Linked DNA regions of Homo sapiens: region 1 is linked to region 2. The links come from fine-mapping of genetic effects on gene expression. A gene starts in region 2. The other region holds a variant in brackets. All regions are shown on one strand. Distances are from middle to middle. Region 1 overlaps TLCD4 (TLC domain containing 4). Region 2 holds the start of RWDD3-DT (RWDD3 divergent transcript).

What was found. PIP is the estimated chance that this variant, and not a neighbour inherited with it, causes the effect.
Region 1: its variant is fine-mapped to the expression of RWDD3-DT in whole blood (TOPMed, PIP above 0.99).

What each region holds. Positions count from the first base shown.
Region 1 is chr1:95,182,308-95,194,614 of GRCh38, reverse strand. It overlaps TLCD4 (TLC domain containing 4), which reads right to left. Exons shown (of 7, transcript NM_152487.3): 7 at 1-3,065. The coding sequence ends at 2,747. All of the region lies in intron 6 of TLCD4-RWDD3 (TLCD4-RWDD3 readthrough), which reads right to left. The region is part of intron 3 of RWDD3-DT (RWDD3 divergent transcript); the gene reads left to right. Among named protein-coding and RNA genes, the nearest start is that of RWDD3-DT, 46 kb to the left of the region's middle. The variant G/A (reference allele first, on the strand shown) is at 5,737.
Region 2 is chr1:95,226,473-95,238,779 of GRCh38, reverse strand. It overlaps RWDD3-DT (RWDD3 divergent transcript), which reads left to right and starts at 4,798. Exons shown (of 4, transcript NR_125949.1): 1 at 4,798-5,080. TLCD4-RWDD3 (TLCD4-RWDD3 readthrough) reads right to left here. Exons shown (of 8, transcript NM_001199691.1): 7 at 7,786-7,878. It overlaps RWDD3 (RWD domain containing 3), which reads right to left and starts at 4,570. Exons shown (of 4, transcript NM_015485.5): 1 at 4,465-4,570. The coding sequence starts at 4,549. RefSeq lists silencers at 4,110-4,289, 4,500-4,829.

The sequences.
Region 1 (12,307 bases), 44 kb after region 2:
TAGAATTGCTCAAAAATTTATATCAATTTGCTTTTATTTTTCTATAAATATTTTAATAGAGTTGTTAAATATCAGAATGCCTGATAGAATCATTTAAATTAATCCGTGTAGTCAAAATACTTAATATTTAAAATGTCTAGCAAACGTTTTTCATTTAATAAATGAAAAATTCATCGTGCAGTAAATGATATGTTCTGTCTTCATTTGTATTTTAGGTAGGTGAATACAATCATAGAACAGCAAAGTGTACCTCCTGCAAAGGTCAGACTTAAAAGTAGCAGGGCAGTTTCTAGTGGCATTTCCATTCCATGTCTGTTGTATGAGGAAATATATAGAACCTACTTCAGGATATTTAATCTGGATGTTGAATTAACTCATGCAGCCAGCATAAGATAAGGATTGCTGAATAAGAGAATCACAAACTTTAGTTCAAAATTTTGATGTTTTAAATATACTTATTTAGTGAGTGGCTATACCAGTGAAGGGTAACATTAATGAAAGTAAGAATGAAGTTTTAAGCATGAAACAGTAACTATAAAAACAAACTGCTACATGGAGACTCACTAATATAGCTTTATATTGTTTTCATTTTGATAGTGGGTTTAAAATCTGTGTTCAGAACTATAGAAATATCCAGAGTCAAAAAATATTTATCTCAAGGTCTCTTTCTAAAAGAATGAATTTCCAAAATAGTTTTATTATATAAATTTTTTTAAAGCCACTTTTCCTGCAAAAAGGTAAGAACAAGATAAAACCGCTTGCTTTCCTACCCCCCTCTAGTTAACCAGTACATATTTAAGCACCTATGATGTGGACAGCACTAAATTTAGCAACAAATTATCAGTGTAATATTAGCTGCTTTAAAAATAACTATTATTTTACATTAATTCTTTCAAAAATAAATGTACCTAGTATAAGCCAATCAATCTCATTTTATCATTTAGTTACTGACTGAGATTTCAATCTTCTTTAAATGTTCTAAAACTTATCAGGCTCTATCTGCATTGAATAATAAAAGCAAATCAAATCAAAAGTCTTGATTATATTCAGCTAGCATGAACAATGAAAGTGAGTCAAACGTTCTCCTTCAAACTGAGAAACTGGATTACATCTTTTGGTATGAGTTCAATTAATTTCAAGTATTCATCACTGGTAGAATTAAATTTCTTCCTTTCTCAGGTAAGAATAATCATTAAACTCAAGTGCTTAAAGAATAAAGGCAATAATAGATAAATATATAATTCTATATTTGGATTGCAAGAATTAAAGTAAAAGCAAAACACATACACACACAACCAGAGTCGCCAGTCATTTATCTTCATATAATCAGACAATAATTTTGATGATAGAATACTTGGATTAAATTACCTTTTTTTTTCTGTGCTTTAAGATAGAAATTCAAAGCACTAAAATGCCAACTAAGTAAGCACGGGTATGAATTGTGAGTAAAATATGAATACTGATATTTTTGTAATAGTTTGGGTCTCATCAAGAAGAGGCCTATTTCAGGAGCATAATAAATACATATTGCATAAGACTTTGGTACTGATGGTGCTGGGTTCAGAACTCAGGGAAGATTTTGCAAACAGAAAATATTTTTCACAGAAAAAGTGCAAGGAAAGCAGATAGGGATAAACAGTGTTAAAACTTTCTTTCTTAATGATTCCTCCGATTAGCCTAAATAGTCCTCTATCAACATGCATTTTTAGAAGAAGAAACTCATCTCTTAAGGAGGTCTATAATCTGTCTTAAGCCTTATTATAAAATAAAAAAGCAATAATTTGATAAAATGCTAAAATAGAAATGACAGTGATATTTGAAAAAATCTTAAAATGTGGGAAGTATTCTCCATGACTAAACTAATTAAATATTCCCAAAGTGGTAAAATATTTCATCATTAATAGGTGATTGCATGTCTGAAATGAAAAATGTTGTTACTTCTGAATAGCCTGAGAAAAAGAACATGCCAACAATTTAGAAATTAAACCCTACACAAGTGTTGACAGCCATAGTAAGAAAAGAGTGCATACAACAAATGTTAAGAGCTATTTACAGATTTAAAAGCAGTTCCCATTCTTGCAGCAAAATTGGTGACATAAAACCATTTGTACCAGATTATCATAGTCATCTTTCACAGAGAAAAAATACCAATGCAGTTAAGAGATTTCTCAAAAGATTCACCATTATATTGATCATTTTTATTTAAACCTTTAAGATTTTTATCCATGCTTGTAAATAAGGCAAAAGAAAGGCAGAAAAGACATCTTGGGATGAAAACTAAATTTTAATTTTAGTTTCTCTCTTTTTTTTTTTTTTGAGACAGAGTCTTGCTCTGTCGCCCAGGCTGGAGTGCAGTGGCACAATATCAGCTCACTGCAACCTCCGTCTCTCGGGTTCAAGCGATTCTCCTGCCTCAGCCTCCCGAGTAGCTGGGATTACAGGCGCCAACCACCACGCCCAGCTACTTTTTTTTGTATTTTTAGTAGAGATGAGGTTTCACCATGTTGGCCAAGCTAGTCTCGAACTCCTGACCTCAGTGATCGACCCACCTTGGCCTCCCAAAGTGCTGGGATTACAGGCATGAGCCACCGTGCCCGGCCTTCTCTTTTCTAAGGTTTAAAAAAAATGACACTGAAATCCTGAATAACAATTATAATTAAGAAAGGTACACAAGAACATGCCAAGAATTCATCCTATCAGCAGATATGCTGGGTAGTAATGAAGTTTGCTTATCGGTAGCACTCTTTTAATCAAGTTTTCCATTCTGAAGACTATTTTTGGCTTTCTCTTGTCTGATGTGAGAGATGACTTTGATGCAACCTTTTGAAATTTTGATCATCCACATGACATTCATCACATCCAAAACAACACAACTAATGACCCAGGATAACTGGATTAAAACTCCAAGCCTTATGTAGGGTTCTGTTCCATACACGGAATACATGAAGCCATAATGAGGAAGCATTGAGGCAATCCGCACGATGAAGAATACTACTGTCATGAGTATTCCATTGATAACGATAGCTTTAGAAAACTTGGGATACTTCAGAGCTTCAAAGAACCACCTGAAAAATGAATTAAAGAAACATCACATTTATAGTGCATCTCTGAGGATTAACCATTTTTATTTTAGTTTTTAAATTTTAAAATTCAGTGAAGGAGGAGCAAAGGGCCTAGAATAGCATACGCAATGCTGAAAAAGAACAAAGTTGGAGGACTCACACTACCCATTTCCAAGACTTAACTATAAAGCGACAGTAATCAAGTCAGCATGGTGTTAGTGAAAGATCAATAAACCAATGGAAGAGAAAAGAGAGCTCAGAAATAGACCCACACAAATATACTCAACTGATTTGTGACAAAAGCATAAAGGTAATTCAGTGGAGAAAAAAAGTCTTTTCAACAAGGTGTGCAAAATTGTATATCAACATCGAGAAAAATGAAGTTAAGCAGAGATCTCACACCTTACACAAAAATTAACTCAAAATGGATCATAGACCTAAATGTAAAATGCAAAACTATAAAACTTCCATAAGAAAAAAGGAAAAAAACCTGTATGATCTTGCATCTGGTGGTGCTATTTTAGATACAACACCAAAAGTGTCATCCATGGAAGAAAAAGTTAGTTAAGTTGGACTTCGTTAAAATTAAAACTTGCTCTGCGAAAGACACTGTTAAAGAAAAGACAACCACACACTAGGAAAAAATATTTAAAATATACATGTATGGTAAAGTACATGTATACAAAGTACACAAAGAATTCTTAAAAGTCAACAATAAGAAAACAACCCAATTAAAACACTGGTAAAAGAGCATAACAAAAACCTCATCAGAAAATATATATAGATGAAAACTAAGCATATAAAAAGATGTTCACTATTGTCATTAGGAAGTGCAAATTGCAGTGGCTCACGCCTGTAATCCCAGCACTTTGGGAGGCTGAGGCAGGTGGATCACCTGAGGTCAGGGGTTTGAAACCAGCCTGGCCAGCCAGGCGCAGTGGCTCACCCCTGTAATCCCAGCACTTTGGGAGGCTGAGGAGCGTGGATCATCAGGTCAGGAGTTCAAGACCAGCCTGGCCAAGATAGTGAAACCCCGTCTCTACTAAAAATACAAAAATTAGCCAGGCATGGCGGCGGGCACCTGTAATCCCAGCTACTCAGAGGCTGAGGCAGAGAATTGCTTGAACCCAGGAGGCAGAGGTTGCAATGAGCCGAGATCACACCACCACACTCCAGCCTGGGCGACAGAGCAAGATTCCATCTCAAAAAAGAAAAGAAAAGAAAAGAAAAGAAACCAATGTGGCCAAAATGGCGAAACCCCATCTCTACTAAAAATACAAAATTATCTGGGTGTGGTGGCGCATTCTTGTAATCCCAGCTACTTGGGAGGCTGAGGCAGGAGAATCTCTTGAACCTGGGAGGCAGAGGTTGCAGTGAGCCGAAATCGTGCTATTGCACTCCAGCCTAGGCAACAAGAGTGAGACTCTGTCTCAAAAAAAAAGAAAAAAAAAAAAAAGAAAGTGCAAATTTTAGCAACAAGATACTATGCACACCTATTAAAATAGCTAAAATCCCAAAAAATGGACAATAACAATTGCTGGCAAGGGTGTGGAACAAGAGGAACACACATTCATTGCTGCTAGGAATGCAAAATGGTACAACCACTTTAGAAGACAGTTTAGCAGGCATAAAACTAAACATATTCATAGCACACAAACCAGCAATCACATTCCTAGGTATTTTTCCAACTGATTAAAAAATGTATGTCCACACAAAAGCTGCATACGTGTTTACACCAGCTTTATTCATAACTGCCAACAACTACAAGCCATCAAGATGGACAAACATTGTAGTACATCCATACATTGGAATACTACTTAGCAATAAAAATAAACTATCAATGTAACAGCAAGAATGAATCTAAAGTGCTAAGTAAATGAAATCAGTCTGAAAATCCTGTACACTGTATGATTCCATTTATAGACATTCTAGAAAAAGCAAAAGTATCAAGACAGAAAACAGAATAGTGGTTACCAGAGTTTCGGAAAGAGTGGAAGGGGATTGAGTAGGTAAAACAAGGGATATTTTAGGGTGGTGAAACTGTTCTGCATAATACTATAGTGGTGGATACATGACATTATGCACTTATCAAAACCCACAGAAGTGCACAAAAAGTGAACCTGATGTATGCAAAATTTTAAACAATCAATTAGGAGGTTGGGGGATACCAGGATGCAATGCAAACAGTGACAAAAGAATCTTAACTGTTACAAATGCATGATATAACATCCCTGAAAGGAGTAAGGTAGAAAGAGGTGCTGACCTAAGTGACTTCAAAGATGGAGACTATAAGACAAAGGCAAAAGAAACTGTATACAGGCAATGTACTCTAGTTCACGCAAAAACAATTAACAATTCTGAAACCATTATACATGTATATCAGGACTGAACAAATAAATGGATTTGTTTGATGAAAAATAGTGGGAACCAGGTTTCTCATTGTTGGATAGAAAGGTTTCAGACAAGCAAGAGGCGGCTAGATTTTTTCCATGAGATACTGGATTAGATTTGGAAACAGTGAACTATTTTAGCTTGATATAGCTATAAATGCATACATACAGAAATAATTATAGATAGGTGTATACACACAGGTCAGCATATTTCCAGGTTCTGTCAGCTAGGAGCCCATAGAAACAATGATGCCTCAGTAACAATGAGCATACATGGCATCCAC[G/A]TGTTGGCTTCTAATACCACTCTCCAATGAAAGAAACTAGGGTTCCTTGAGAAATACCTGATTTGAGGGCTGGGAACAGAGAATACACAATATACAATATGAACCTGTTAGAGTATCATTTAGGGCCAGAGAGCAAGAAAGTGCTCAAAAAACAAAATGACGTTTCTTTATGTCAAAGGAACACAGAAACCAACCAAATGAGCTCTCCAGGTCCAAAACTCACAATGTGAGCAACAAAATAAATAATGTTGTATTGGATTATAACCTAAAGTATAAAATAAATATCCAGAAATCAATACTGATATAAATGAATGAATGAATGAATAGGGGAGAAGAAACAAATCTGTTCCGAATAACTGCAAATAATTTATGTAGAAATCACACCTTCAACAAGGTAAAGCATAAACCCCTAGTCCTCAAGTGTGGGCTGTGTATAGTGTAATGTATTGAACTGTTTCCCACTAAATTCTTTTTTTTTTTTTTTTTTTTCTGAGACGGAGTCTCGCTCTGTCGCCCAGGCTGGAGTACAGTGGCGCGATCTTGGCTCACTGCAAGCTCCGCCTCCCGGGATCACGCCATTCTCCTGCCTCAGCCTCCCGAGTAGCTGGGACTACAGGCGCCCGCCACCATGCCCGGCTAATTTTTTGTATTTTGTAGTAGAGACGGGGTTTCACCGTGTTAGCCAGGATGGTCTTGATCTCCTGACCTTGTGATCCACCCGCCTCGGCCTCCCAAAGTGCTGGGATTACAGGCGTGAGCTACCGCGCCCGGCTAAATTCTTATGTTGAAGCCCTAAAGCCCCAAAGTGACTGTATTTCAAGATAGGTCCTTTAAGAAGGCAATTAAGGTTAAATAAAGTAACAAGGGTCAGGCTCCAATCCAATAGGACCAGTGCCCTTAAAAGAAAGGAGAGACCAAAGTTCTCCCTCTTCCTCCATGCACACACGGAGAAGAGGCCATGTGAGGACACAGAGAGAAGTTGCCTCCTGCAAGAAGAGGAGAGGCGCCTCACCAAGAACCAACCCTGCAGGCACCTTGGTCTTGGACATCCGGCTTCCAGCACTGTGCAAAAACACATTTCTGTTATTTAAGCCACCCAGACTGTGGCATTTTTTATGGCAGTCCCCAACAAACTAATACACACAGTGACTTCCTTCCAAAGTGTACAGTATGGAAGGGGCAGGGGGAGGGCAGGTGTAAGGAATAACTTTAAAATGGAGAAACCGGACAAACAGTACCTCAGGTGAACAAGCTTAACATCAACAATGATTAAGTCATGTTCACAGCATGCAGTCCTAATATGTGTGATGAGAATGATACTGTCCCTCGGTGGTCTTCCTCCCCAAACCCCATATCCCCAGTGTAATCATGAGAAAAACATCAGACAAACCCAAATTGAGGGACAGTCTACAAAACACCTGATCAGTACTCCTCAAAACCGTCAAGGTCACCAGAGACAGGACATCTGAGAAACGATCACAGCCAACAGTAGCCTAAGCAGACATGAAACTAAATGTAGTGTGGCATTCTGGAAGGGATCCTGAGACAGAAAAGGGGCACTGGGCAAAAACGAAAGAAATCCACACAAAGTATGGACTTTAGTTAACAATAAGATATTAACACTGGCTCGCTAATTGTTAACAACTGCACCCACTGATCTATGACGCTAACAATAGGGGAAGCTGGGTGTGGGGTACACAGGGACCCTCTGTATCAGCCTTCTGATTTTTCTGTAAATGTAAAACTATTCTAAAGATAAAAAGGTTTTTAAAAAGTCAGTGAACATTCGCTCTATTCCACTTTTTCTTCCTTAAAAAAACTGCCTTGCCTAATTTTACATCATTTTAGAGATCAAATTGCAAAGGCAGTAAAACATATCTGTGTATCTTAATATTCAATTTAACTGAATTAGTCATGATTAAGCTAAAATTGTTCAACATAAGAAACTAAAAATTAATAGTTAAAAAGCTTGAAAATATTTTATTGAGTGATTAAAATATCAAATAATTTATATAGGATGAGAGATGTATTACATTTTATAAGTTTATGTAGGATAAAAGGGCTAAATTATCTAAGACAATTAAGAAAGACTATTTAGATAGCAATGGCTAAATTAATGAAATAATACTGCAAATAGGAAAAACATCACTAAAGCAATGACATCCACATTCTAATCCAGGTCTCTGATCCTCAAGCCTTCTCTTCTCCAAAGACTTCCCTTCTCCTTCAGCCATTCATTTCTTTGACTACATGGCAGCCTTGGAATTACTCAAGAAATATTATACCTCAGTGAACCCATTCCTCTCTAATCATAAGCCTTCCATATTTCTCTTTACCCAATCTCACCTAAACTACTTCTTTGACCTTCAAATCCTCAAATCTCTCTCTATCAGCCTCCACGCTTTCACTTCCTTTCCTACCTAATCCAAACTCCAAGTTAACTTCAGAACACACATCAGCACCCTCCGTTCTCTTGCCACTTCATCTATCTCACCCACTCTGCTGATCTCCAGTGTTTCATCAAGCCAGCTTTCCTTAGGCAATACAGAATGACGTGAAGAGTAGCTAGGGTGCTCTGCAGTCAGGCCGCCTGGGTTGAAAGCCTGGTTCTGCCATGGAGCAACTGTGTGGTCTTAGCTCTCTCTGCTATTCACCTCTATGTTTGTTCTATCTCTATAAATGGGGATAAATGATAGTACCTCCTTTGTACTATGAAGCTGCCATGACACAGAGTAACAACTCCCCCATACTGTAAATTCAATAAATATCATTACCCACCAATCTTTATTAAGATAAATGGCACAAATATAATTTTAAAAGATTTGAACTTCAGCAGAATTCTCAAACTGGCTCGACAGTCCTTTCATTTCACTCCATAGTTCCCATATAATTGCTTCCAAACCTGTCCTGCCATTCAAGTCAATTCCCTTCCTCATTCACTTTTGTCTCTCAATCCCATCAGAGCATCTGGTTTCTTACTGATATACAGTTAATTCTTGAGCAACACCAGGGTTAGGGGTGCTGACTCCCCACACAGTTGAAAATTGCTTGACTTCTGACTTGCCCAAACACCTGATTGTTGACCAGAAGCCTTACCAATAACATAAAGTCAATTAACATTATTTTATGTTATTTGCATTATATACTATATTCTTATAATAAAGCTAGAGAAAAACGTTATTTTCTAGAGAAAAGAAAATCATAAAGAAAAGAAAATATATGTACTATTAAGTGAAAGTGGATCTTTGTAAAGGTCTTCATTCTCGTCGTCTTCACGTTAACTAGCCTTGAGTAAGAGAAGGAGTTGGACTTGCTGTCGCAAAGGTGGCAGAGGTGGAAGAGGTGACGAAGTTGGAAGGAAAGGCAGGCACACTTAGTGCAAATTTTATTGAAAAAAATAGATGTGTCAGTGGACTCATACAGTTCAAACCCATGTTGTTCGGGAGTCAACTGCATTAGAGTCCATCAACCATGAATTCCTTCCACTCTGACCCCAAGATCTCAAAACTTCTTCTCAGGCACCTTTACCTTTCAACTCAGAGGAGAGTCCTCATCTTCTAGGATTTATTCAATAAACTACCCTGCCTTCCCTTGTTCTACCAAGTTCCCCTTCTATAAATTGATTCTTCTTTTACCAACGTGCTCAATTCCTGCTAATCCAAAAACCTCCCCTCCACTGCTTCTCTTCTTTGCCAGTTTTTTGAAAGGAGAGTCAGACATATTCACAGACATTCTTACTACACTCCCAAACCCAAGACGATATGACTGCAACTCTACAAAAGAAATTAGTCAGTTACATATGTGCACATGTACCCTAAAACTTAAAGTATAATTTAAAAAAAAAGAAAAAAAAAAAGAAATTGGTCACCCATAGCTTCCTCATAACCATAGTGTTAGCTTCTGCCAATTTTTCCATCTAACCAGTGCCTGGTCTTTAAACCAGTTTCTTTCAAAGGAAAGAACCCAAATATTAACTCAAGGTGAAATAATATTTACATAACTGTCCTCCTTACCTCCCTCTTCCATGGCAGAAAGATCACTTATTTTGTTGGAATCCACCTCTTCTTACCTAATTAGAACATTCTTTCATTCTAGCAAATAAAGACTAACAGTTTGTGAAGGTATGTACTGAATCTGAGAGGAAAGAGGGGAAGGGAGGAAAACATGCATGTGGGAAGGAAGGAAAGAAGAACAGCAACACTTTCTTTTACCCACCATTTACTGTTATTACTAAGACAGGCATAAAAGACAGCAAATTGTATGTATTTATTAATACAATCCTCCCTTCACTCCAGAGAGAAAATCCTAACTTTGGTCATTTAGCAATTATTCCTCCTCCTACCCTTCTAAAGGAACTTGAACCTTCCCATTAAGTTTACTGGGAGTTAATTGTGTAGAGGTATCGTACTCACTAAAAATTGTGTAAAAACTAGAAAAAGTGTAAAAACTAGGAATTATTTGCTCTAATTCACATTTACATTTGGAAAGAGGATGGAGGGCTATTTGCAGGCACAGAAAAAAAAAAAGTGAGAAAAGAGGACAGGGACAAATAATTGATCCTTGATGGCACTGGTTTGTTGAGTTTTAGAGGAGTTGAGAGTCAGAAGTTTGAGAGAGCCTTAGGAAAGCTGTGGGGTCAAGATATTGTGAGTCCAAGAGGAATGAAGAGAATTTTAAGAAGTGCTGTTGTGAGTAACAAACTGGATCTTTGTTGACATCCTTGGAAAAACTCCAATAAGGATTTGGATGCTGTACTGTTTCTGGAACTCTGTGAAGGGACTGGGCTGTAAGCTGACTCTACTTACATCTTAGTTGCAAATGTAATTTCTTCAGGCATGTAAACATTTGTATTTAATAAACATTAACCCTGGAAGGTTAGGAATTTAAGAACTGAATTTTAGACAAGTTTCCCTCCAGCTTCATATTATTTTGGTTCCCCTACTACTCCTAAATTATTCCTTCATTATATCTACTCTTCTTTCTCTGATTCTCCAATCTTGTTTTTTTGTTTTTTTTGTTTTTGTTTTTTATGTTGTTGTTTTTTGAGACAGTCTTGCTCTGTCGCCAGGCTGGAGTGCAGTGGTGCGATCTCGGCTCACTGCAATCTCCGCCTCCCAGATTCAAGCGATTCTCCTGCCTCAGCCTCCTGAGTAGCCGGGACTACGCGCCACCACACCCAGCTAATTCTTTTTTGTACTTTTAGTAGAGACGGGGTTTCACCATGTTGGCCAGAATGGTCTCGATCTCCTCCTGACCTTGTGATCTGCTCGCCTCGGCCTCCCAAAATGCTGGGATTACAGGCGTGAGCCACCACACCTGGCTGATTTTCCAGTCTTAAACATTTAACTCTAATCTTCTAAATATATCTTTTCTCACAGGTTAAAATATCACCTTATTCTGATCATCCCAACATTCCTCTCTCGAGCTCTCACTAAATTTCCACTCAGATGCTCTGTTTGTCCTCTTATCCAATATCTCCGCACTAAATTCGTCACCTTCCCTCTCAGTCTTCCTAATTCTCTGTCACTTTTGATGGGCACATTTCTCTGGGTCCAATATAGGATTTGTCTTAAACTTGTCCGTATTCTCTAATTTTTTATCCGTTCATTGCCAATTTCATTTCATTTCTTCAAAATCTCTATTTTGTCATCTCTCTAGTCCCACAGCTTAATATGGACTCTTATTTACTTTCGGAACTAATAAAATTACACTGTCCATTCACACAACTAAGAACTGGGTAACCTAACCCAAACTTTTGTCTCCAGTGTTACAATCTATCCTACAAATATCAAAAGTTATAACCACTCAGTGCTCTTTCCAGAATGTCTTTCTCCACTATAATCTCACTGTCTACTGGGTCAAGTTCAATCAGCTCTCCCAGACACTCAACATCCTCTACATCTATCCACCCTACCCCTAAGACATACTCTTTGATCCTATACTTTCTCTTTCCCATAGCATGTTTATTTCACTTTTCAAAATCCTATGTTGATTCTTTTCTTCTTGAATGAAGGCCCTTCCCTCTCCATCCACTTCTTAAAAAAAAAAGTCCTAAAACATTTTAAGAGTGTATGCCACGTTCTCTGTGAAGCCTTACGTGACAAGTATCAATCAATGATAGGTCTTAAAATGTGGTTTATGGACCCCTGAGTCCTTTTTGGGAGGTCTTCAAGATATAATTATTTTAATAATAGTATTAAAACATTATTTGCCTTTTTCATTGTGCTGACTTCTATACTGATAGTGTAAAGTGCTAGTAAATAAAACTGTTGGCATCTTAGCACAAATAAAGAAATGGTATTAGTAGCCACTGTATCCTTTCCCACCACATGCTTGCTTGCAGTTAAAAACAAAACCAGAAAAAAGAAAAGTTTCAGTTAGAAATGCCCTTAATGAAGCAGTAAGAATTATTTATTATTTTTATTAGATGACTTCTGAGTATGTGTCTTTTTAATATTCTGTATGATAAAATGGGAAGTACACATAAGGCATTTCTGCTACAAAGTAAAATGGTTTTCTTGAGGAAAAACCCTCAACTGATGGTTTAAATTGTAAGCTAAACTACCAGGTT
Region 2 (12,307 bases):
ACACAACAGAAACTCTATAAATGCAGTCAAATAACAGAAGACATTTTTAAAAAAAGGTAAAATTTAAGAGAATGGGTTTTTCAGGATTCACTAAGAGCCCATTAAGAAATTGTTTACATACCATATACATCTGACCTTCCCTACACTTGTGTTTTTTTTCTTTGCAATTGTTATATATCCTCAAGATACAACTTTGAAGAAAACCACCAAGAAACCTTCAGCACCCTCTCATACTTGGTAAGACAAGACTGTCTCCTCTTGCTCCCAGGCAGCTCCCAGGCAAGCATACACCAGTGCTTGTTTTATGCTTCAGTTGGATTTTTACATAAGTTTCAATGTAGCTTCAGAAGAAAAAAAAAAAAACTAAAAATAAATGAAGCTAAAAGTAGCAATCTCATCGGTTTTATAGAAGTCAGCTCAATACTGACAATCAGCATAAAACCGAGCTGAGCAGATTTAGAGGGGTCAATGTGTGACAGTCATGATTCATTTTATAAGAAGGCCCAAACTAATTTGAACATTAGTGTTGCTAAAATACAAAAATTCACTCTGCAGCTTCTGTGAAAACCTATTACATGATATTGGGTTCTCCCATCTTACAACTTTTTTATCTGTAAGATTCTTTCCAGAAGCACAACTCCCACATATAACGAACATTGACTATGGCCACATAATCTGTGTCACTCAATTTCCTCATCAGGAAAATGGTGATACAATACCAATCTCACGCCTCTCATAGATCCACACATACATGCACAAACACTCCCCTTTGGGATTGTTCTGAACATAAGTTGGCTCACACTCATATCTTTTCTCTGGGTGCTCATTATCGCTCTTTCTGCACAAGTATTTCCTTGCTTTCCAAGAACTATTTTCCTGATGCAACAGCCCCATCTCTCTATTAAGGAGCATGATGCAGTGCAAAGGCCCATACACCTGGAGCCTGGTGGTTATTTAACCAGTCTGAGTATCAGTTATCTTCTCTGTGAAGTAAGACCAATAGTACCCCTCATCAAGTAAGATGCATTTCAAGTATCACGTACATGGCAGGTCACCCCATCAAATCTGGCACCTGGACTGACTACAATGCATACAGAAAAACAGAATATCCCTAATGTGGTCTATCCACAGCCCTCCCTTGTAGATGGGAGTGTAGGGACTTACTTAATTTGCACCCCTAAGAGATGGTTATGCCTCTTACTAGAAGCTTACTATAACCATTGTAAAGAGATCAAAAGGCAGATAAAATCCCCTGAAATTCTCAGCATAAAATTAGTCCAGCTAAATGGAATCCAATTATTTAGCTTCTTCAATCTTACGGCCTTAATAGTTGATCCTTGGGTTAGCAGTCTGAGTCTTGCTGGGTTATCTTGTTACCAGGAATGCAATTCCTCTGCAACATTCTCCTGATTCCAGTGGCAAAAGGGAGAACCTTATTTGGGGGAGGCCAGAAAAGAACTAGTGTTTAGAGTGTTCTGGTATCAAGTGTGTATCCTCCAACCCAAACTGACAGTGATGGTGAGTGGTAGCCAGCAGTCTGCTGCATGTTTACTGTGGTCTGTTAAAGAAGTCCTTACTTTGTAAAAAGATGTTACGAAAATCATGGGAAAAAAAAAAAAGGCCTTTACCTTACCCCCTTAATTCCCACTTGTGAACATCAAACATCCCCATTTCAATCACTGAATTATTCTACCTCTCAGCAACAAAATGTCCTAAGTTGTTACACTGAATTCTTTTATAATTCAATTACTTATTGATGCCAGAACATGGAATTAAACTAATTAGGAGGCATGGCTTGAAAGTCATGCTCAATTTAACAGCAGATAAAGGGTTCACAGTGTTCTCAAGATTAAGAAACTGTTTTCTTTCTATGCTTACATTTTTGGGTTTTCTCTGACCCTTCAGCAGTGTTTTATGCTCAGCTGTGTACTAATGACCCAGACCATTACCAGTTCTTTAAGGTGTGATGGGAAATTGCAGGTTCATTTTTCCAGGATATTCCCAACTGAGCCATAATAAAGGAATTTAGGAAAACTGATGATCTCTTCAAATAGCTGCCTCAGGCAGAAGTAATTATCAATAAAGAGAACAGTGGAGACAGAGAGGGAGATGGTGAAGAATTATCCAATCAGAAGAGGGATGACAAGAAAACACTAAAAGTGAGTAAACCCCTTCATATGGATTTTAAACAATTGTTTCAAAAGATACAAGTCAGGCTGGGCACTAAAAAGAAAGCAACTCCATTACACTAATAGGTGCATAGTGCCTGGAACATAACAGTGCCCAATGAGTGGATGTGAGTGGATGAATGCAAGAAGGAATAAATGGAAGTCAACTCCCTGTCCTTCAGTGAATAACACACCCAATGGATATCATGAAGGATCTTAATCTTAAATGGTTTTCTCACAACATCCAGCCCATTTTTAGACTACTTTTTTTTTTTTTTTCTGAGACAGAGTTTCACTCTTGTTACCCAGGCTGCAGTGCAATGAATGGTGAGATCTTGGCTCACTGCAACCTCCGCCTCCCGGGTTCAAGTGATTCTCCTGCCTCAGCCTCCCGAGTAGCAAGGATCACAGGCGTGTGCCACCATGCCCAGCTAATTTTTGTATTTTTAGTAGAGATGGGGTTTCGCCATGTTGGCCAGGCTGGTCTTGAACTCCTGACCTCAGGTGATCTGCCCGCCTCGGCCTCCCAAAGTGCTGGGATTACAGGCATGAGCCACGCGCCAGGCCTAGACTACCTTCTTAAAGGTTAACCAATTTATGGTCAGAAAGCCAATTTTAATGGTAGCTACAATATAACATTAGAACGATAAATCTCATGCCCCAAACATGTACATAATGTATCTGAAAGCTAAGTGAAAACTGAGTCACTTTCTCATACATGGCAGTGTTTTTTCTTTTTTTTTTATTCAATAGAAGCCACATACAGGGACAGTAAGTTTCACCTATCATCAAAAAATAGTCAAAAGAACCTCTCTACACTGTAAGCTCCTAGAGGCCATGGGTAGCGGTGTCTCTGAAACCCTGACAAAGTCTGTAGGCAGCAGGGATTCAATAAATGTGGGCTAAATGACTAATAAAGCCCTCAAGAGCTTGTTTAAAAAAAAGTATCAGAAGGCCAGGCACCTGTGGCTCACGCCTGTAATCCCAGCACCTTGGGAGGCCGAGACGCGCGGATCACGAGGTCAGGAGATTGAGACCAGCCTGGCCAACATGGTGAAACCCCGTCTCTACTAAAAATACAAAAAATTAGCCAGTCATGGTGGCAGGCGCCTGTAGTGCCAGCTACTCGGGAGGCTGAGGCAGGAGAATGGTGTGAACCCAGGAGGTGGAGCTTGCAGTGAGCCGAGATCGCGCCACTGCACTCCAGCCTGGGGGACAGAACAAGACTCTGTCTCAAAAAAAAAAAAAAAAAAAAAAAAAGGCCGGGCGCAGTGGCTCACGCCTGTAATCCCAGCACTTTCGGAGGCCGAGGCGGGCGGACCACGAGGTCCGGAGATCGAGACCATCCTGGCTAACACGGTGAAACCCTGTCTCTACTAAAAAAAAAAATACAAAAAATTAGCCGGGCGTGGTGGTGGGCGCCTGTAGTCCCAGCTACTCGGGAGGCTGAGGCAGGAGAATGGCGTGAACCCGGGAGGCGGAGGTTGCAGTGACCCGAGATCGCGCCACTGCACTCCAGCCTAGGCGACAAAGCAAGACTCCGTCTTAAAAAATAAAAAATAAATAAAATAAAATAAATAAAATTCAGCCAGGCATGGTGGCACGCGCCTGTGATCCCAGCTACTCGGGAGGCGGAGGCTGCAGTGAGTCCAGATGGATCCACTGCACTCCAGCCAGGGCAACAAGAGAGACTCCACCTAAAAAAAAAAAAGTATCAGAAAAGCAATCAACTTGGAAATAGAATGCAGATAAAGTTGAGGTTGAGCACTGGATAAATGAAAAAGTTCAGTCAACAAACATTTACCTACTACCTACCAGGTGCCTGGAGTCATTACCAAACAGACCCTGCCCTCCTGCAACTTAAGACCTACAAATACCCGTGTAGAGTTAGAACCGGGGAGTGCTCTCGGGGGGGCCTAGGGCATAGTGCTTAGGAAGGACACAGAACAACGAGGGGGCGTCAGCACAGGCTTCTTTATAGGGTGAGATCTGAGGGGTGGGAGGCTGGGGGAGGGCCTGGGGGTGCGCACGCAGGGGCCCCCGGCTCCGGGAGCGGGACCGGCGGCAGAGGCCCCAGTGGGCCGCGCCGCTCTCTTAGTGTTTCTGGGGTCGCCTCACACTCCCGCCCGCTGCGACACCACTCCGGCCTCCGGGCGTGTCATTCCATCATTCAACTAACCCGGTCCCCATACGTGGGCCCAGGCGGGGTGCCCAGGCTCCGTGGTGGGGAGGAGACGCAAAGCGAACGCGGGTGGCCCCTGAGGGCGCCCTGTCCCTCCCGCGCGCGGGTAGTCACCTGAGCGGCTCAGCACCTCCCACTCGTGGGGCCTGCAGAAAATCGCGGCCAGGACCGAGAGCTCCTCCTGCACAGGCTCCGCCATGGCTGTGGGCCCCACCGCCTCAGCGCTTCCCCTTCCGCTGCCGCAGCCGCCGCCTCCACCGGCCAGGAGCAGCACTGCCCGCGGCCACCCGGGGGCGCCCCGCGCCTCCGCAACCGGGCGGGACGGGGGCGGGGCGAGACGGAGCTGGGGCGAAGCGAAACGGGACGTGGGCGAGGCGAGTCCGGGCGAGGGTCAGGGCAGACGGGGCGGGCGGGGCCCTTAGAAGTTCCGCCCAGAAGCTCCTGCTCAGTAACTACAGACGCGAAGCTCAGCCTCTCGGTTTGGGAATTTTCTTGGAGGCCGAGGCCCTGCGCCTCTGTCTGCACCCAAGGCGACCGCCCAGCTTACCCCCGGCTCTTCTGAGCACAGGGAGGCCTCCCAGCAAAGCCTGAACCCTCTAAGTTTAGCTGCAGGCTTCGAACCCCGACCGTCCCCGCCGAGCCTTGGGCTGCTGAGGTGGGGATGAACTGGGCGAAAGACACTTGGGAGTTAGGAAGAAACAAACAAGCAGGGAAGTGACCAGGAGACAAGGTGAGACTTTGCCCGGCTCAGGTCTGAACTGAGTGTTGGAGATAACCACAGTTAACAAAATAAACAAAATTATTCGCCCCCGTGGAGCTGTTAGCAACCCTGGTGCCTGGGAAGCCTGGAAGAGGCTCGGGTTAGTAACAACCTCCAGGATGCCCTCCGAACTGGTACTGGCGCCGGGACTCTAGACAAGGTCCAGATTCCCGGGCCCTTCCCCTTACGGGTGCAAAAAGGGAGGGTCAGGACCTGCCAGTCCTGGCTTCAGGATGTTGACTGGACGGACCTGGACTCATGGGAACTGTGCGCCAAAGTCCTGGGAGCAAAGTGTCATAACGCTCCTCGTTTGTCTCTTGCCTTCACAGGAGACAGCCCTGCTGCAAGCGGCCAGTGGGAATCCTTGGCCTTTGGGGGTATGATCCAAGAATGTAAACGCTAGCTTTTCAGTGTTTTCGATTTCGTGATATTCAATGCATACAATACAATGTGACTCTTGAAGCTTAATAATAAAATTATCATTCTTGAGCCCAGCACCTAAATTTTAAAATGTGAGCAATACCAATAGGGTAACAGAATAAGCAATCCATTCTGTTTTGACTATAGTGAACAAGATTACAAGACTTATCTGCAGTTAGGTCTGTCTCTCGGATGTTTGCCTGGTCTTTTTGCTGTTCAAATAACAGTTTAAAATTTGGCAGTCCCCACAAGCAGCTGGTCTTGCTCATGGAGTTCTCACAACTTTTGTTTGTATGAGAAATCACATTTCATGAGATAAATCTGGGAATTTAGGTTGTTAGGCAGTGACTCCAGTCACTGACCTACGGAAGTCAGAACAAAGTTGGCTGATTTTAAAACCCTGCATCCATTCACCATTACCATTCCCGCTGTTGGTAAAAAAGGAATCTGATAAAGGAAAAGATACTGGCTTCCCGGAACAGAAAGGAAACCTAACAAGATGGACTGCAGGGAAAATGCTTTTCAGAAGATGCCATGGGATTTCAGTGACCCCGAGTAATTAGGAGCACATAATTGGGAAGATGAAGGCTTATTTAAATGCAGTTATCTCTGATATGGCCAATTGGCTTGAAGAAAAAAAAAACTCCTTTATTTCCAAAATAACAGACGTTCCAGCAGTTCAGTAGGTTCATAATTAACTGCTAAAGAGATTGAACAAAAGAATACGTTTTTAATTTAAAATATTACTAAGTTATTTTAATTCGAAATCCAGTGTTACTATGAAAAGTCAAACAATTTGGTTTTTGACTTATTTATTGAAAATAATCTATAAAATAGGCTGGGCGCAGTGGCTCATGCCTGTAAGCCCAGCACTTTGGGAGGCCGAGGCGGGTGGATCACCTGAGGTCAGGAGTTCGGGACCAGCCTGACCAACATGGTGAAATGCTGTCTCTACTAAAAATACAAAATTTAGCTGGGCGTGGTGGCAAGCACCTATCATCCCAGCTACTCAGGAGGCTGAGGCAGGAGAATCGCTTGAACCCGGGAGGCGGAGGTTGCAGTGAGCCGAGATCGCACCTTTGCACCACTCCAGCCTAGGCAACCAAGCGAGACTCCGTCTCAAGAGCAAAAAAAAATCTATAAAATATTCAAATAGTTTTTACTTATTTTTAATTTTCCAAATTCACTATAAGTGAGATGAGTGAAATAACATGAAGAGCAAAATTACAGCTGTAGGAAGGATTAGGAGGCAGTTGCTAAAGCCTGCTGTCAGCAATAGGTCCATGAAAATTGATTAAAGAGTACATCAATCTATGATTTAAAATTTTCTTGTCAATAGGTTTCTTCTTTGCTCTTCCTTTCTCAGTTGATTTCTTAATCTGCTTTTCATACCTCATTTAGCATGTTTAAATAAAAAAGAAGTCAATGTGAATGTCTTTTAAATTGACACTATCCTAAGGCACTGAAGTCCCATGAATAAGTTTCTGCACTCTGACATTTGGAAATAATCATCTCAGAGACTGCATAATGTCAGCTTGATATTTCTTGCACTGTGAAAATATCAGCTACATGTCAAATCTCTAAAGTCTACCTTAATGTAATAAGTTTCCTCGTATTCACAGGCTACTGAAAATTCAAAATATTTAAATGTAGGATGAATGTCTACAGTTAGAGCATTGTCTACCTCCATCTCTCTCTCTCCCTTCTCACCCTTACACACACAAAGGTGTATGATTTGCTAGAACAATTATTATTTTTACAAGTATTATTTTTACAAGCAAATTTTCTAAATAGTTGCTTCCCCAAGACCATAAGGGGAAAAGGTTTAAAACCTTTCACCTTCAGTTAAAACCAATAACCCAGAAGATAGTTCTTTTCATTTTGGGGGGAAACAGTTCTACTCACTTTCTCATGAGTAGTATGTAGACTTACTCAACTCTGAGTTTGAAATCTTAAGTCAAAACTCACGTGAGCATAGAAATGAGAATGCACAATTTCAAGTGTATTAGGAGAGTTAAGTGTTATGTCAAAAAAAGGTGAGGATCCTAATACTGGAGTGGAGTGTGATAAGAAAAAATATCAAATCAAAACTGAGAAAGGTAAAAGTACTTTCATGAACCACCAAAACAACCAAAAGAGGGCTTAAATGCCAACTTCCTAAATAAATCTGAACTCCAAGAACCTGTGCTACTGGTTCTGTCTAAAGAGTTTCTGCATTCGCATACTCATTTCACAAAATGTTCTTAGACACTCACTGATTGTTGGCCGGGCTCTGCAGGCTGAGTGTGGAGAGGTGGAGAGTTAGAGATGAAAACAAGTCCATGTTTCCAGTGACTACAGCCTTTGGTCTAGACAAGTAAACACAATATGAAACAATTACAAATTCTTTCACCAAGCTGAGCATACAAGAATTATCACATTTCCTTAGCGGTGTAAAGTTCAATATTATGATGTAGGTTAAAGTAACAGAGTAGGAGTAGCATATACCTCCCACAATTTCCGAGGGGAGAAATAATTTGGAAATGCTCAGGAACACAGTAGCCCTCCAAAAGTACACAAAGTCTGGGATGTTAACTAGTCATAGTTGTTTTGTTTTGTTACAGTATACAGATCGTAAATTTATTTTTCATAATGATAAAAGCAAATAAAATCTATGAGAATTTGCCACTGGCTCTGTGATCATACCCTTGTGTGGAAAGATCTGCCTCCATCATGTCCAAGTAATCTGCACTCCCTCCAAAATATCGGCTGCACTCTGCCATGCTTGATTTCTATGCATGAATGGTATCAAGACAGTTCCAGCTTGCTTTATGGGAACCCATCCATATGGCCCAAATCCACCAATATAAAAGCTCAATGCCTTCTCAATGTTATAAAAACAAGTCACTGGTATCATTGGGGTTTTTGAGTTTTTCTAGTTAAAATAGTATCCAATATTTAATTTTGGTGACTATTATAAATGGATTCTTCTTATTCATTATATTTTCCCACTGTATTACTAGTGTAGCCAGTTTTTATTATCTAAAAGAGGGCTGAGGATTGTGTGACTTAAATATCCTTTTCTCCAAACTCATAAAGGGACTATCCATGAGTAAACTCTGCCATTTTAGCAAAAGTGATTGAAAATGGAAAGACAGATGTATATCAAGGAACCACAGGTAAAACTGGGAAAATTAGACTTGGATTTCCTTTTTAAAAATTATAGTGGAAGGAGGGAAGAAGGTAGGAAGGGAAAGAGAAAGAGAAAAAAAAAGAGGTAGGAGGAAGAGGGGAAGGGGGAAAAGGAGGAGAAATAGGGAAAGAAAAGATTGATTTTTATGAGGCAAAAGAAGTCATGAGTTAGGAATTTGTCTTTATGTAAGGAAAAAGTAAAAAAGATTGACTTGCCTGCTTCTTAAATAAAGAAGTCTGAAACTTGATTCAATAACAATATGAGGTCTGAAATTTGATTCAAAATAATATAGGAGGGAGGAAGAGGCTATAGTGTGAGTGGGGCAGAAGCTGATCATAGGTTAATGATTGGTGGGGTGGAGTGATGGGTACATGAAGATTCAGTATTTCATTCCCTCTACATTTGTGTATTTCATATTCTTTTTAATAAATGTTAATTTTTAAAATGTGTTCAGTAGATAATACATCAGGATATTTGAGTTTTGCCTAATGCTCAATTAAGGGAAAAAGGACAAAAATAAAGCAGGAAAATAGGGAAGAAAAAGGAAAACCGGGGCCAAATGGAGTGAATAGAGTTGGTGGATGATATTAAGAGACAGAAGATGACAGGTTCTAAAGTGATGTGTTTAACAGATGTATGATTTACGATTAGTTCAGGTGAAAAAAAGCACAGAGCCTAACAGTGCAGTGGCTTTAACAAGATACAATTGGTTTTCTCTTAAACGTTCAAGTGTGGAGGTAGGCAGAGCTTTGGTGCTCCCCGGTGTCAGGATATAAGTTCCATCTATTTTGTGGCTCTGCTCTGCACAGATTTGATTCCCATGGTCATGCTGTGGTTCAGGGTGGCTTTTGGAGCTCCGATCACGAGTCAGAAGAATGGGATTCAGTCCAATTTCATTGACTAGGACTCAGTCCCCATGACTGCTGCCAGTTAAAAGGGAGCTTGAAAATGTTGGTTTTAATCTGACAGGCCCTGTACTCATTAAGATGAGTTTGGGTCAGATGGATAGCTTGCAAATATTTTTTTTCCCATTCTGTAGGTTGCCTCTTCACTCTGCTGATTGCTTCCTTTGCTGTGCAGAGGCTTTTTAGTTTGATGTAATCCCATTTGTCTATTGTTTATGTTGCCTCTGCTTTTGAGGTCTTACCCAAAAAATCTTTGCCTAGACCAATGTCCTGATCCATTTCCCCTATGTTTGCTTCTAGTAGTTTCATAGTTTCTGGTCTTAAATTTAAGTCTTTAATCTATTTTGAATTGATTTTTGTATATGGTGACAGATAGGGATCTAGTTTGTCTCTACTAGAATTTAAAGTTCCAGTAAGCTTCCAGGGGCCTTATCATGCTTGTTCACCTCTGTATCTTCCATACCTTAAACAGTGCCTGGCAGATTAGGAATTCGATACATATTTATTGATACAAATAAACTCATCATAAAGTTCATAAATTCTTGATAAAATAACTTAGACTTAACAAGCACCTACTATATGCTAGTCATTTTGTAAAATTTCAGGTGTTTTTGTGAGTGAATGAGACATAGTCACTGCCCTCCAGGCACTTGGAATCTAATCCCAGAGGGGCACCAGCATTTCCTGGGATAAAGTGATGAAGGTCCTGCCAAAGAAGTAAAAAACCATTGGAGAAGGCCTAGGATGCCTGGTTTGGCCATTGTGATAGAGGTTCCCCATCATAGGGTAAGCGGGGGAAGAAGAAAGCTTAAGGAAATGTGGCTGGAAAGATAGATCTCTGCCTTTATTCTTCAACAAGCACTTATTGAGCACCTTACTATGTGCCAAGTATTGCACCAGGTCCCAGGGAAACTGGTTTGCAACAGGATCTCTTAGAAGTTGTAGTATAGTGGGAGAGACAGGTCTTAAAAGATCATACATGGCCGGGCGCGATGGCTCACGCCATCGAGTGATTGCTGTAATCCCAGCACTTTGGGAGGCCGAGACGGGAGGATCACGAGGTCAGGAGATCGAGACCATCCTGGCTAACACGGTGAAACCCCGTCTCTACTAAAAAAACAAAAACATTAGCCGGGCGTGGTGGTGGGCGCCTGTAGTCCCAGCTACTTGGGAGGCTGAGGCAGGAGAATGGCGTGAACCCGAGAGGCGGAGCTTGCAGTGTGCCTAGATCGCGCCACTGCACTCCAGCCTGGGGCGACAGAGCGAGACTCCGTCTCAAAAAAAAAAAAAAAAAAAAAATCATACATGTGGTCATCTGCAGCCTGTTGAAATCATGGGAGTAGATGATTGCCGGTCTGAATCTCAAGAATTTCACAATGACGGTGATGTACTTCCTGGCAATGAAACAAAGAAGCACTATTTTGCTCGTGTTTCTAACACAATCTGGATCAAAACAATAACCCCTTTGTGGGAGTGTTTCTGCATTTCCCTGTTGTTTTTCACTTTTTAACATTATTTCCTTCTGTTTTTAGTGGGGAAAAAAAGTCAATAGAAAAAATCTCCCTTGTAGCACAATTGCCACCTGCTAATACCACATTGGCTTTTGTTTCTGTCTGTCTGACTGCCCCTCTCTCTCTCTCTCTCTCTACGTCTCTCTGTGTGTGTTTCTATCTCTCTGCCTTAGTGATATAAAAGCTATCTAAGAATAAAAGGCTAGGCTATAATACTTTGTCATTTGTTGTTTTAGGTAAAATCCTTGTCTATTTACGTGATTCTCATTGCTGTTCAAAACATTAATTAGCCAGACATTTTTTCACTGATAGCTTCATTAGTTTCAAAATGAACATTATACTTCCAGATGAAACACAGCCAGAGCTTCTACTCTTGGGATCATATTACCACATACTTTGTCATTACCTCTTTCCCCTTTTTCCTAAGATAATTCCTTACTTCTCCCTCTGGTGAACTCTTATTCATTCTTCAGGTCTGAATTCCACTCATCCTATACTTCCCCATCACTTATCGTAGGGAACTGTATTTGCTTATATGTCTATAATCCCAGTAGATTATGATTTTCATGAGATGAGGGTGCATTTCTATGTCATCTTTGGTTGTATCTCCAACTTTTAGCACAGGGCCTGGCATATAAAAGGCATTCAATATTTGTGGAATGAGTCAAGAATGAATTAATGCATGGTTATAGTGTATAAGTAAATAGGTTATGGTTCACTTTTCTTATTACCTCCACTCTGATTTCTACCAGATTTTATCATACCTTGAACATGTTGACACACATCAGTGTTAAGCAGGCAGATTAATACTGATGTCTTTACTTGATTCACATTGAGAGTAGTGAAGAAAATACAAATGGGCAAATGCAACAATGGATTAATCCTAACGAAGCCCCACAGCTTCATACGGGGAGCTGAAAAGAGGAGTGCATGTCACCTTTACAGTAACTTTTCACATTTGACTAACAGTTGCTCACAGTTACCACTTCACTTGATTGTATTATGCGCAAATAAAAATGGCTTTTAAAGTAATTTAAAGCTACTATGCAATATAAAGTTTTGACATTACTGGGTTGAGTCTGGAAGTCATGTGGTAGGTAAATCTATATAGTGTTTATGTCCCAAACTGTAATGAGATACCCCATGGTACCTGATCCAGGCTAGCTAGAAATCTATCCTATTTCCACCT